Homo sapiens: one gene and its partner. The protein of the gene in region 2 interacts with the protein of the main gene of each other region in a biochemical or structural test. Each region holds a gene or a part of one and is shown on either strand. Other genes may lie near its edges.

Evidence for each region.
Region 1: the proteins of SPAST (region 2) and DCAF8 form a complex in vitro, tested with the Homo sapiens proteins (one study listed by BioGRID and IntAct).

The regions. Positions count from the first base shown.
Region 1 is NC_000001.11:160,224,436-160,231,707, forward strand, and holds part of DCAF8 (DDB1- and CUL4-associated factor 8), read right to left. Parts: intron 6,973-7,272; coding exon 6,862-6,972; intron 1,229-6,861; coding exon 1,156-1,228; intron 685-1,155; coding exon 627-684; intron 115-626; coding exon 7-114; intron 1-6. UniProt on the Homo sapiens protein: May function as a substrate receptor for CUL4-DDB1 E3 ubiquitin-protein ligase complex.
Region 2 is NC_000002.12:32,058,756-32,066,609, reverse strand, and holds the start of SPAST (spastin), read right to left. Parts: upstream 3,055-7,854; 5' UTR 2,779-3,054; coding exon 2,364-2,778; intron 1-2,363. UniProt on the Homo sapiens protein: ATP-dependent microtubule severing protein that specifically recognizes and cuts microtubules that are polyglutamylated.

The DNA of each region.
Region 1 (7,272 bases), on a different chromosome or scaffold from region 2:
TCTCACCTGTGGCATTATTTCTGTGGCCCTTGTATCTCTTAACATACTGGGCCCCATCACTGTGAGAGGAGTTGAAGAGGTAAATGTCTTCATCATTGTAACTGGCCAGGAGCTCTGCCAAGAACAAGAACATAGCAGTGAAGGCAAAGGCTGAAAAAAGCAGGGACCAGGAGGTGGGGGTTGGGGTGGGGCTTCTTGCCAGTAGTGCCCCCTCCAAATACCCAGGTGTAGCACCCATCTTATTTGGAACACCAGGCAAGTCCGACTGTACAGGGTAGACTAAGAACACACTGCCAACCCAGGGGCAGCAGAATGCTCAAAAAGGTCATACCCATTAACTCAGGAATGAGTCAAAGGCATAAGAACCTGCTCAGGCAAGCAACCTGGGCTTCAGGACAGGCCCTGCCAAATATCATCTGCAGCATTCTGCAAATGGTACCTGGCATCTCCAAGGGTCATCTACTGTATCCTCCCGCTATGTGCTCACCATCAGCAGTTACTCCCCAGCTGCTCTACTTGGAGCTATAGCACAGTGGTGAGCACTGGAGGGCACATGCCTCACTGGCTCAGCAGCTCCCTAGACAGAGGGGGCATGCCAGCCTAGGAGCTGGGCCCTGCTCACGTACCTGTGCCGTCGTGGCTGTACACAAGACAGGTGATGTTTGCTTTGGACTCACTGTTCACCTGCAATAAGGAGCAGATACTGACTGATGCCCCACCCCCCCATTTGTTATACCATCTTCAGGAAACAGCTTTTCCTTCAAACTCCCCTATATCTTCTCCCAGAGATTTGAGAAAGACAGACAGAGACAAGAGTACAACTGATGAAACATGACCACCTCAGGGGGTAGCATCTTGGGGCTTTCTTTTGGTTGTCATCCATGTGCTAGCCATTTTATGTACACTGTCTCATTAGGCCTCACCATCAAGGTGCAAGGCAGTTATTTTTATTTCTATTTTGTCGATTAAAAAACTGAGGCTATCAGAAGTGAAGTGACTGCCAAGATCACAAAGCTGGTAAGTGGTAAAGCCAGGATTCAAATCCAGATGACTGACTTGAAAGTCCAAGCTCTTCCCACCATACCAACAAGTTCAGGTGCAGCCTTGGGGTTGAGTCAGGGAAGCCTGCAGCAACTGGCCCTTCATGAATCTTACCAGGTGATGAGGACAGAACTTCTTGAGTACTCCATTGTTCTCATTCTCATCAATTTTCCTCTGGTCATAAATCCTACAGTTGGAAAAGCAATGAAAATGTAAAAATGTACAAACGAAACCCTTGAAGAGCTGCAATTTGATGTAGTGGCAGGAAACTGCCAGCTGGATGCAGATAAACAACATTTTCCAAACCAAGCTTTTGGTTTGTGCTCTTCCTTAAAGGGCATCCCTTTTCCAATCCATTTCCAAACCCTAAATCTTTTGTTTGTTTGAGATGGGGTCCTGCTCTGTCACCCAGGCTGTAGTGCAGTGGCATGACCCCGGCTCACTGCAACCTCCGCCTCATGGGTTCAAGCAATTCTCTTGCCTCAGCCTCCTAAATAGCTGGGACTATGGGCACACACCACCACGCCCGGCCAATTTTTGTATTTTTAGTAGAGACAGAGTTTCATCTGTTGGCCAGGCAAACCCTTAAATCCTTTATCCACATACTTCCCATTTTAAGTGGCAATCCTCAATTCTGTCAGTTTGAAGTGGTTTATCTCTCTCCTCAAGTTTTATATCACATACTGCTACTTTTCACTGAAACAACTAACATTAGTATGGAGCTTTTTACATGTACATTACCTACCGAAAAAGGTTACTCACGGGCAGAAACCATGCTTAATGTAAGTCAATGGGTCTGTAATCCCTCCTTAAAACTGTATTTGGCCTGTTCTCCCTCTCATACCCCACAATAATTATTAAAAACTACCACCCATATCCTCAAGACTCCCTCTCCTTTCCTCATTCTTATCAAGCACACTACACCTTCACCTTCCTTCCTCTCTCTAATCCAAGCTTTAAACTCATGAGGACACACATATTATGTGTCAAATATTATGCTAGGTGCTAGAAATACAGTGAGGAACAAGACAGATCCAGTATCTGTTCTCACCCAGTCTCCTCCAATCTCAGAGCCAATCTCTTGAAAAATGCTTTTCATTTCATCCTTCCAGGGACCTTGTTTGATGATTATCTAATTTCTCAACCTCTTCCTCATCACCAGCTGGCCACTTTCTAAAAATCCTTCTGCTGACTGTCCTTTCCTACTATTGCTTTTTTTCTCCTTCCCCTTACAGTTACACTACTGAAAAGAACAATCAACATTCAATATTTCCACTTTCTTACTTCCTATTCACTTCTCAGTCCATCCTAATCTGGTTTTGGTTCTCAACTCACCACTGAGACTTCTCTGGCTGAAGTCATCAGTTAATTATATCCATTTGTTAAGTAGGTGTAAGTCTAGAGTTCAGAATAAGTGTGGTCTGCAGACACAGATGTAAGTCATATATCCGTGTGAAAGGTGGTAGTTAAAGCATTGGTAATGGAATTAGATCTCCAAGGGAAAATACAGAGAAGATTTTCCCTTCGCCCTTTAGAATCTCTGGCCTGTTTCAGAATATAATGAAAACTCTAGTCCCTTCTCCCCAGAAAAATGCACATAAGCATACTTTCTGGAGGTTCACATAATATTTGTACTTCAAGTTAAAATTCCCTGGTATAGAGTAAGATGAGAGCTGAAGACTGAGCTACTGGAGAACATCAGCATTTAATGGGTGGAGAAAGGAAGACACACCCATGAACAACACTGAGGAGTGGTTGGACATCAAGGAGAGAAGGTGCTTCAGGGAAGGAGTAATAATGTCAAGAGTAGAGAAAAAGACTTGAAAAGTACTTTGTTTGCTTTGGCAGTTAGGTTACTGATGACTTAAGCCTTGACATCCCCAGCTCACACGATCCTCCCGCCTCAACCTGCCGCGTAGCTGGGACTACAGGCACACACCACCATGCTGAGCTAATATTTTTATTTTTTGGTGGAGACAGCATCTGCCCAGCTTGGTCTCAAACTCCTGGCCTCAAAAGATTCTCCTGCCTCAGCCTCCCAAAGTGCTGGGATTACAGGTATAAGCCACTACACCCCAACTAAGTGTTTATTAATAGCTTACTATATTCTACATATGATGCTAGAACGGAGTTTGGCAAACTTTTTCTTAAAGGACAAGACAGTAAATGTTTTAAGCTGGTAAACTGGCAAACCATCTAATCTCTATTAAAACTATTGAATTCTGCCATTGTAGCATGAAAGTGGTCATAAACAACATGTAAAGTAAGGCCATGGCTGTGTTCCAATAAAACTTTATTTATAAAAACAAGCACTACAGTTTGTCAAGCCCTGTGATAGACAGTAAGCATAGAAAGATTAATACAAACTTTCCTACCACTTTCTGAACATATGATAGGCCCTTGATAGTTTATATTTTACTTTTAGTTATTTTTTTTGAGACAGGGTCTCACTCTGTCATCCAGGATGGAGTGCAGTGGTGTAATCACAGCTCACTGTAGCCTCAAACTCCTGGGCTCAAGAGATCCTCCTCTGCCTCCCAAGTAGTTGGGACTACAGGAGCATACCACCACACCTGGAGATATTTAATTAATTAAAAAATTAAAATTTTTTCTTAATTTTTTTTTTTTTTGGTAGAGACACAGTCTTGCTATATTGCCCAAGTTGGCCTTGAACTTCTGACCTCAAGCTATCCTCCAGCTTTGGCCTTCCAAAGTGCTCTAGTTTTATAGTCATGAGCCACCACACCAAGCCCCTTGACATTTTAAGTCACGTAAGGAATAGTGTGCACACCTTTACCACATCTCTTCCCACATGCCTTCAGGCACCCACTAACTTGTTACCCTAAGTCTCTCTTCTATACCTGCCTTTAATCTAATGTTCTCTCAGTGTTGCTGATGTTGGCTTAAGAACTGGGGAATGAAGAGATGATTTACTGACTGTGCTTCATCAATCAGGGCCTATACTTAATCCTTTAGCAATAAATTTTCATGTCAGCCAAATTTACCACTAAAGGATTCACCTGATATATTCTCTTTTTCTTTACCCCTATAAATTCTTAAAACTAAGCTAAGCAGGAATTAGCTTAGCTTAGCAGGTGTAGTAGGGACTCACACCTATACCTCCTCTACTTACCTTTTTTTTTTTTTTGGCCACAGGCCAAAAAGCATGTCTCCCCAGAGCTTCCCTTAAATACTTTTTAATAACCCTAAACTAAAATTCAGTATTAATGATGCAAAAGCCTTGAGGATCAGTAAGCTATTTCTCTATATTCCCTTGAAGTAATTCCTTTAGGCTAGGAGTGAAAGTTAATGATGTTATGATATATAATATTCAGCAAAAATGTTTTCAAATTTATACCAGAAGATGAGCTGTTTGGGTTCTTTCAAAGGAAGAATAAGAAAGGAGAAACCTCAAAACATTCAGTTGGCTGCACAGGAGAGGTGCCAGAGAAGTTGAGTGTAACCTAATGTCAGAGAAGAGCTGGAGTGCTGAAAGGGCTACCTGCTTGTGTAGGATCAGCGTGCCTCAAAATCTTCACATAGCCAGGCGCGGTGGCTCACGACTGTAATCCCAGCACTTTGAGAGGCCGAGGTGGGTGGATCACTTGAAGACAGTTCGAGACCAGCCTGGCCAACATGGCAAAACCGTATCTCTACTAAAAATACAAAAATAGCCAGGCAAAGTGGCACATGCCTGTAATCCCAGCTACTTGGGAGGCTGAGGCATGAGAATCACTTGAACCCAGGAGGCAGAGGTTGCAGTGAGCCGAGATCGAGCCACTACACTCCAGCCTGGGCAACAAAGTGAGACTCTGTCTCAAAAAAAAAACAAAAATCTTCACATAACTTCTGCCCAGTAAATAGCCAATAGAGGAATATTGAGGCTGATAAGACACAGAAGATTTGAGTATTTCTCCTTGTGTTGAAATGCTAAAACTCTAAGCCTTACTCTAACCCTGGGAAAGTATCAGCTTTGGGTTAAGGCAATATGATATACATATCATATGAATACATATGAATACATACATACATATGAATACAGTTCTCAATACAGCAAACTACTACATTCCCCTCCAAACATCTTGGTCCTAGTGGTGGAATTTGTTAGAGACACAGACTTTTCAAGTAATCTGGAGCTCTAAGTAGGAACTCTCAACTCAAAATTTCAGTGAATGCTCAACTTGGAGGAGGTAGCAACTGAAAATCTATACAAACTACAACCCTTTTTGATCAACAGCTTCTTATTTAAAAATAAAAAAAATTGGCCAGGCACAGTGGCTCATGCCTGCAATCCCAGCACTTTGGGAGGCCAAGGCGGGCAGATCACCTGAGGTCAGGAGTTCGAGACTAGCCTGGCTAACACGGTGAGACCTCGGTTCTACTGAAAATACAAAAAATTAGCCAGGCGTGGTGGCGTGCACCTGTAATCCCAGCTACTCGGGAGGCTGAGGCAGGAGAATCGCTTGAACCCGGGAAGCGGAGGTTGCAGTGAGCCAAGATTGTGTCACTGCACTCCAGCATGGGTAATAAGAGTAAAACTCTGTCTAAAAAAAAAAATCTATGGCTACACATTTAAGGACTGTTGGTGACTAGAGGAAACGAATTTTGAAGGCATGGGAATAGGGGAAGAAGAGAGAAACAAGGTTTTGTCCAGGATTCTTGAACAAGGCAAAGTCATCTCATGTATTTTCTAAAAATTTACCCTATTCCCCATGATTCTTATTAATAAAATGAATCTGGAAATATAGCTATAAAATGTGCTCTCATTTCAAAAGGAAGATGATGCTTTTCACTTACCATTAGGAAAGCAAAAAGTCACTCATTTTTCTAGTGATCTTGCCCCTCTCTCTCCTTTCAAACTGATGAGCCCAAAGAAACATAGTTAAAATAGGCCAACTGGATAGGGATGGATACAGCTTATTACTAAGGGTCAGAGGAAATTAACTAATACATATGGAGACTGAATCCACAGTGTCTGTTTTCCTTAGGTCATGTCTCAAGAGCCAGTGTTAACAAAAGGTGTTCACGGTAACAAAGATATCACTATGGATAAAAAAAAGTGGTAGCTCAGGACAGTGAGAGCCAAAAAACCCTCAGTTCACACTAAGTGCTCCCAAGTCAAACTATTTCTGAATTGAAAACCAGTATTTAAAATTTCTAGTGCACGTTTATTTACATACGAAAAAGGTAGATTATTTACTAATATAGTACTTGCTGGTAAACCTAAATTTATGGCTTAGCTGCCACGTGAGGACCTTGGTCAATTCATCTAACTTCTTTTCTTTTCTTTTTTGAGACAGAGTCTCGCTCTGTCATTCAGGCTGGAGTGCAGTGGCACAATCTTGGCTCATTGCAACCTCTGACTCCTGAGCTCAAGTGATCCTCCTGCCTCAGCCTCTTGAGCAGCTGGGACTACACGCATGTACCACCATGCCTGGCTAATTTTTGTATTTTTTTTTTTAGAGACAGAGTTTTGCCATGTTGGCCAGGCTGGTCCCAAACTCCTGTCCTTAGGTGATCCACCCGCCTCACCTCCCAAAGTGTCGAGATTACAGGTGTGAGCCACTACACCTGACCATCATCTAACTTCTTTAAAACTTGATAATCTCTAAAATATGTAAAGTCACCCCTCAGAGACTGTTACATTAGAGAACAGAACATCTCCAAAGGCGTGTAAGATTTTTGGAAAACGGTAAAAAATTCAAGATAATAGTTAATGGATTCCTATAAAATTCGTAACTCTCCATAAAGGAGCACCTGGTAGTATACAATGCATCAGTCTTACAAACTGTCAAAGACACAAAAGAGCCACAAACTCACCTTACAAACTGATCTCGTCCACCCACTGCAAACTGGTGGGTATTGGCAGGATTCACATAGATCGTATACAGCCCCACTTTCTTCTCTTTCTCTTTTGTCACCACCAGTTTCCTTTAAGAGTAGAAAAGCACAGAAAGTTATATACTCCAAAAGATCCAAATGGTCATGGCAAAGGAGAGCCAAGAGAGTCACATGGCTAATAAGAAACCAAAGAGATTCTCATTTGGAAAGAAAGAATTGTTGTGTTTTCTCTGTTTGTTTTGTACGTAACAACAGGAAAAAAGCACATACATTTATTATATGGGACTTTGGGGATTGGGGAAAAAAATATGTAGTGAAGTCACTTTCTAGTGTTCCTTAAGAAGTATAAACTAAAGGTATATGAATGTACCATTCTTTAGGAAGCCTCAG
Region 2 (7,854 bases):
TGCAACCTCCACCTTCCAGGTTCAAGCACTTCTCTTGCCTCAGCCTCCTGAGTAGCTGGGACTACAGGCATGTGTCACCATGCCCAGCTAATTTTTGTATTTTTAGTAGAGATGGGATTTCACCATGTTGGCCAGGATGGTCTCAAACTCTTGACCTCATGATCCACCCGCCCCGGCCTCCCAAAGTGTTGGGATTACACGCGTGAGCCACCATGACTGGCCCAAAAAATGATCTACGCTTAAACATGTTCCTCTATTCTAAAACTTTGCAACCGTTTTAATTCTCCCCAAGGGATCCTGGATGTTCTTAAGAGGTGATAAAGAATGGAGCTTGCTGGGTGGGCACAGTGGCTGACACCTGTAATCCAAGCACTTGGAAGGTCGAGGCAGGCGAATCACCTGAGGTCAGGAGTTCGTGACCAGTCTGGCCAACATGGTGAAACACCATCTCTACTAAAAATACAAAAAATTAGCCAGCCGTGATAGGGCGCACCTGTGGTTCCAGCTACTCGGGAGACTGAGGCAAGAGAATCGCCTGCGTCTGGGAGGCAGAGGTTGCAGTAAGCTGAGATCACGCCACTGCACTCCAGTCTGGGTGACACAGGGAGACTCCATCTCAAAAAAAAAAAAAAAAAAGAATGGAGCAGTTAACAAAAAATTTCCTTCTACAAACACATAGTATTCTTAAATGTTAACACCCTCCTTGACCTCTCTTAACCGTCACTCTTTCCTTACTGTCCAAAACAATGAATAACTGCCTCTTTCCTTATATCCCACTTCCCACTCCCAGGCCCCACAAAGGAAACAGGTTTCAACAAGATTGAAATTCTAGAACAGTTTTTGGAGTTGGCAGTAGAGACAGACACTATGAATGAAGTGCAGATTGTTTCTGTTTTCACTAATGGACAATGCAAGTGAGTATCTAATTGAGGTGTGGTAGAAAAGTGGGTGTTTTTGGCAGAGGGAGAAGCAAGATCTCAGCATACTGGAAGTAAGGATAAAAGGGGAGAATTGTAAAAGTTAGACTTCTCCTAATTTCACTTATTTTCCATAAAAGAAATTTCATTATTAGCACAGGTTTGGAATAACCTCCTTTATCTTTTGGGCCTCATTTTCTTCATCTCTAAAATGCTGATACCAATAATACCTTCATCTCACAAAGTTATTGTGAGGATTAAATAACACTTTTCATGGTCTGGGATGGTTGCTATTTTTTTTAAAAAGAAAAAAGATAACACATGCAAAGCTAATAGCACAATGCCTGGCACATATAATAAAAAATGTTAGCTTAAGGCCAGGCGCGGTGGCTCATGCCTGTATTACCAGCACTTTGGGAGGCCGAGGCGACCCGATCACGAGGTCAGGAGATGGAGACCATCCTGGCCAACATGGTGAAATCCCTACTCTACTAAAAATACAAAAATTAGCCAGGCGTGGTGGTGCGTGCCTGTAATCCCAGCTACTCGGGAGGCTGAGGCAGGAGAATCGCTGGAACCAGGGAGTCGGAGGTTGCAGTGAGCCGAGACTGCACCATTGCACTCCAGCTTGGGCGACAGGGCGAGATTCCGTCTCAAAAAAAAAAAAAAGTTAGCTTAAAAGAAACCCGAAAGATGTAGTATCCTTGCTTTCATTCAGAAACATACATAGTTGTTTTAGGTTTTACTGTAAAGTGGTATGTTTAAGTTTACGCAATCCATTCATCAAACATTTCAACTTGGAAATTAAAGGCTACTTTGGAATACTGTTTTAATTAAAATCAAAGCAACAGGGGGAAAAGTTTTATGCTAAATATAACTTCATTGAAAAAGTATTCAGGAATCGTTGTACTGATAAAATGATTATCTTGATTAAAATGATGCAAATTCAACTGCAGTCATATGCAGCTATTTCTTTCAAAATTGTCACCATTTGTTCTTTTTTTCTGACACTACAATACTCTGCTTTCATTAAAAGCCAGTAAGGCGGCACTGCTTCTTCAATATCAAAACCTTTTGGAAACCTTGGTTCAGAGGAAGCTGCACACTCTTCACAGTGCTAGAAAGGATCAGTGTGGTCACTCTAGGACAAATGTCACTGTCATCAACACGTCTGGGTGTCTCATAGTGACCTGGGTCATGCAGAAGTGTGGGGGAAGGCTGGTGTCTGAAACAAAGTCGACAGCTACAGTGCCCTGAAAGGGGAGAGGTTTTAAGAATACTAGAAGATGAGGCTCCGACCTACGGGAAAGCAGTCTCCCGGGGCATATCAATTCCGGGGGTGCACCGTCCCCTCCCGCAGAAAAGGGACGCAGGTGTTGCCCTCCCCCGGCGACCCCACCGCCTTCTTCCCGGCGCCGCCGCCCCCTCCCCCAGCCCCCTAGTTACCTTTCTCATCCTCATCGATGCGCAGGGCAATGGAGATGTACTCGAAGGCCTGTTTGTGGAAGACTCGGACGCGCTCGGCCTCGCCGCCCGGCACCGGCGCCGGGGCCGAGGCCGAGGCAGGTGCTGGCGCGGCCCCGGAGCTCCTCTTGGCTGCCATGAGGGCGCGGGAGAAGCGCTGGCAGAGCCACACGAAGAGGAGCCCCAGGTGGAAGGCGACCAAACGCAGCAGCGCGAAGCCTACAAACAGCGGGTAGGAGAAATAGTACAGGTTCCGCTTATGCGGCGACTCGGGCGGAGGGGCCGGCCCGGCGGCGGGAGGGGCGGGGGCCAGGCAAGGGGGCGGAGGCCTGGGAGGCACCGGGTTGCTGGCGCCGCCGGAGCCTTTCTTCTTCCCTCGTCCACCCGGAGAATTCATTCACAGCTCTCACTGCCGCCGCCGCCATAACCCGCCTCCCGCAGACCGACGGGAACCAAGCGACGGCGGCAGCCACTGCTACGGCGGGGGCCACAGACCCCCGTGTGCCCGCCGGTCTCAGGAGCTCCGCACTGCCGCACGCTGCCCGCCGGCCCCGCCCCTTTCTCCTTCCTCGGCCAGGAGCACAACCCCTTCTCCTCCTGCAGTCGGTGGCTCGGGCCCCTCCCTTCCTGTCGCTGTCCTCTCCGCCGCCTGGTGGCTCCCAGCGGCGGCCGCGCACGCGCACGTCTTCCCGTGTTTTTCTCCGGCGCGCGCGCGCACGGCGCGTCTTTGTTGACCGGGGCCCCTGTACGCGTGTGCGGCCCCCGCCTCTCGGCTTTCCCACTCAACTACAGTTCCCAATGTGCAGTTCGGCTCACGTCGGCAGCCCTGGAGAGCTCCTGCCAGGAAGCCTTCGTAATCGATCCACGGAAGGGGGAATTGCGGCTTGGGGTCGCTCTGCTGGTTCGCTAGGCTCCTCTCTCAGTGTCGTCGTTTTCTTAGATTTCTTTCATCTTTTTCTGCCAGGCGACCTAAGTCTTCTCCGAAGGATAATTGGCCCATCTCAGAAGCAATGGATATCAATCTGGGAATTAAATTAGCCGGGCGTGGGGGCGCGCGCCTGTAGTCCCAGCTGGTTGGAAGGCTAAGGCCGGAGAATCGCTTGAACTCGGGAGGCAGAGGCTGCAAGTGAGCTGAGATCGCGCCACTGCACTCCAGCCTGGGCGACAGAGCGAGACTCCGTCTCCAGAAAAAATAAAATAAAAATTTAAAATCTGGGAATTATTTGAGAGGAAAGCAATTGTGAAGATAAGAAACTTCAGGTCACTGCAAACAACAGCAACAAAAATGTTAGCTCAGTGTGATGAGATCAACTAACCCAGGGGTTTAACTAAATTAGTGCATATTTAGATGTCTAATATGAAAGATAATTTATTTGAATAAGGGAAATCTTAGGTTTTGCATAGTTACCATCCCATAGTTTACTGAAGAATCTACACTTTTTTTTTAATCTACTCAGCATCCCTTCCTTTGGGAAACTACCTGCTTGTCTCTGCTCCCTGTATTCTAATGAGCTGCAAGCACAGAACCCAGACCGCAAAGGCGGAAGCAAACACTAGGTCAGTCAGATTCTCCTGGGACCTGGAATCTTGGCTGGAGACCCACCGAATAGAAAGTAACTGGAAACGAGTGCTCTTAAGAGCGGGTTTATCAATGCATCACATTGAGCTCCCCCAGAGCTGCTGGGTTCCTGACTGGTCACTTGGTTATGTAATCTATCCAATACACTAATCAGTCTGTTTCTCTGTTTCTCTCTTCCTCTCTCCTTTCCCCCTTCCTTCCTTTCGTCTTTTCCTCTCTCTCCCTCTCTCTCTATCTCCACGTCTTTTTTCTCTTCTCTTTCTCTTTTTACTTGAGTTAGCCATAATTATTTCTTGTTTCCTAAAACTAAGGAAGCCAAACTGATAAAAAGACTCCGTTATTTACAATGTGAGGTTTCCAAATGCCCCATGAGAGCTTCCAGCTTCCAAGAATCTCCACATTCTGCCACAGCTTTATTTTTTTATTTTTTGGACAGGGTTTCACTCCATTGCCCAGGCTGGAGTGCAGTGGCGCAAACAACATGACTCACTGCAACCTCCACCTCCCTGGCTCAGGTGATCCTTCCACCTCAGCCTCCCGAGTAGCTGGGATCACAGGCACACGCCACTGGGCCCGACTAATTTTTGTATTCTTTATAGAGCCAGGGTTTCACCATGTTGCCCAGGCTGGTCTCCAACTCCTGGGCTCAAGCAATCCGCCTGCCTCAGCCTTCCAAAGTGTTGGGATTACAGGCATGAGCCACCCCATCGCGCCCCCAGCTAATTTTTTTACTTTTTTGTTGAGACAGGGTCTTGCTATGTTTCCCAGGTTGGTCTTGAATTCCTGGGCTCAAGCAACCTGCCCGCCTCGGCCTCCCAAAGTGCTGGGATTACAGGCATGAGCCACAGCACCAGCCAATTTTACTTAATTATTCCCCGCCAGTACTGCCCTACAAATGTCACAGGCTATTGCAAAAATGACCTACTCCCTGTTTCCCTCTTATTGCTCCCCCTTCTCTGTGCTTATGCTAGACCCTCATTCTGAAATGCCCTCTTTCGGCCGGGTGTGGTGGCTCACGCCTGTAATCCCAGAACTTTGGGAGCCGAGGCGAGCAGATCACCGGAGGTCAGGAGTTCAAGAGCAGCCTGGCTAACATGGCAAAACTCCCTCTATACTAAAAATACAAAAGTTAGACAGGTGCATTCCTGTGGTGGTGGTGCATTCCTGTAATCTCAACTAGTGCGAGGCTGAGGCAGGAGAATCACTTGAACCTGGGAGGCTGAGGCCGCGGTGAGCCAAGATCATGCCAATGCACTGCAGCCTGGGCGACAGAGCGAGACTCTGTCTCAAAAGCAAACAACAAAAAATTTTTTTTAATGAAATGCCCTCTTTTAAATCTGATTCAGGGCCTGGCACGGTGGCTCACACCTGTAATCCCAACACTTTGGGAGGCCAAGGCAGGCGGATCACCTGAGGTCGGGAGTTCGAGACCAGCCTGACCAACATGGAGAAACCCTTTCTCTATTAAAAATACAAAACTAGCCGGGCATGGTGGCGCATGCCTGTAATCCCAGCTACTCGGGAGGCTGAGGCAGGAGAATCACTTGAACCCAGGAAGTGGAGGTTGCAGTGAGCCAAGATAGTGCCATTGCACTCCAGCCTGGGCAACAAGAGCGAAACTCCATCTCAAAAAAAAAAATTACATTTATACATATATCATATAAACAAGAAGTGTGTTACTTAAATGCACAATTTAAAGAAAAATAATAAGCAGCATTCCATTTAAGAAAAATGAATGTAACCAACTCCTCGAAGCACTCTGTGAGCTCCTCCCTAATCTCAATGTCTTGTCTCTTCCTCTAGAGGAAGCCACTATCCTGAATTTTATATTAATCATTCTAGTGTCTCATTTTTAGTTTGCAGTGTATTTATGTATTTCTAAACAATGTCTTGTATGATTTTGCCTCACTTTGACTTTATGGAAATGTAATCATATTTCAAGTATCCCTTGTTTGCTTTCCCTCCTCAAAATTTTTAAAATTTCATTTATTTTATTTTAAGAAAATAGAGATGGAGTCTCACTGTTGCCCAGGTTGATCTCGAACCCCTGGGCTCAAGTAATCCTCCTGTCTTGGTCTCCCAAAGTGCTGGGATTACAGGCATAAACCGCTATGCCTGGCTACCTACTTAATAATTAAGTGTTGAAATTCCTCCCTGTTGATTTCTATAACTGTGGTACATTTTCACTGCTATATAGTATTCCATTATATGAATTTACCACAACCTATTTTACTGTTCAACTATTGATGGATATTTAGTTTGATGCCAGTTTTTTTTCTTAAATAACTATCTTCCCTGTTATCCCTCCAGTCTTTACCACTAAAGAAAGTAACTTACTTTCTAACTTAGCCAAGATAGGGCCCAATAGTAGAATGGTTAAATGGTCCTGGAGTCAGACTGGTTGCATTTAGATCTGTGTTCCATCACTTTCGGTGATCTTGGATGAGTTACTCAGCTTCCACATCTACAGTATAACACTAGAGTAGTAAGCAGTGCCTGGAATCAAGTTGATACTTGATTATTTTTTTATTTTTTGTTTTTTTTAATTTTTTTAAATTATCTATTTTTTGTTTTAAAAGTTCTTTTGTAGAGACAAGGTCTCTCTCACCGTGTTGCCCAAGCCAGTTTTGAACTCCAGCCCTCAAGCAATCCTCCCACTTCAGCCTTCCAAAGTGCTAGGATTACAGGCATGAGCCACCATGTTCAGTTTATTTCTATTTTTATTTTATTTTTTACTCACCATGATACTAACAAGGAGATTTGTTGGTTTTTTGTTTTTGTTTTTGTTTTTGAGACAAGGTCTCACTCTGTCACCCAAGCTGGAGTACAGTGGCGCCATCAGAGCTCACTGCAGCCTTGACCTCCCTGGCTCAAACCACCCTCTTGCCTCAGCCTCCTGAGTAACTGGGACTACAGGCATGCACCACCATGCTGGGGTAGTTTTTTTTAAAATTTATTTATTTTTTAAGATGGAGTCTCGCTCTGTCGCCAGACTGGAGTGCAGTGGTGCGATCTCGGCTCACTGCAACCTCCGACTCCCTGGTTCAAGCGATTCTCCTGCCTCAGCCTCCCGAGTAGCTGGGATTACAGGGATGTGCCACCATGCCCAGCTAATTTTGTATTTTTAATAGAGATGGGGTTTCTCCATGTTGTCCAGGAGGGTCTTGATCTCCTGACCTCGTGATCCGCCCGCCTCAGCCTACCAAAGTTCTGGGATTACAGGTGTGAGCCACTGCATCTGTCTGAATTTTTTGTTTTTTAGTTGAGATGAGGTCTCACTATGTTGCCCCAGATGGTCTTGAATTCCTGAGCTCAAGTGATCCACTCACCTTGACCTCCCAAAATGCTGGGATTACAGGCATGAGCCACTATGCTTGGCCATGAGGAAGATAGTTTTTGAATAAAGAATGGTTCTCCGACATTTCCTCTGCACTTTCACTATACTCTAGCTAATATAGACTGTTGGTCTGTACCTACTTTGCTCTTTTCCAGGACTACAATTACTCTCCTGTCATTTTTCATTCACTTAGAATGGCCTCGCCTCCTACTTCCACTGTCAAAGTCCTTCAAGACTTACCTCTAATGTTATATTTTTTTTTTTTTTTTTTTTTTTGAGACTGAGTCTCACTCTGTCACCCAGGCTGGAGTGCCATGGCACGATCTCAGCTCAATGCAACCTCTGCTTCCCATGTTCAAGTGGTTCTCCTGCCTCAGCCTCCTGAGTAGCTGCGACTACAGACGCGTGCCACCACGCCCGGCTAATTTCTTGTATTTTTAGTAGAGACGGGTTCATCGTGTTAGCCAGGATGGTCTCGAACTCCTGACCTTGTGATCCACCTTCCTTGGCCTCCCAAAGTGCTGGGATTACAGGTGTGAGCCACCGCGTCCAGCTCT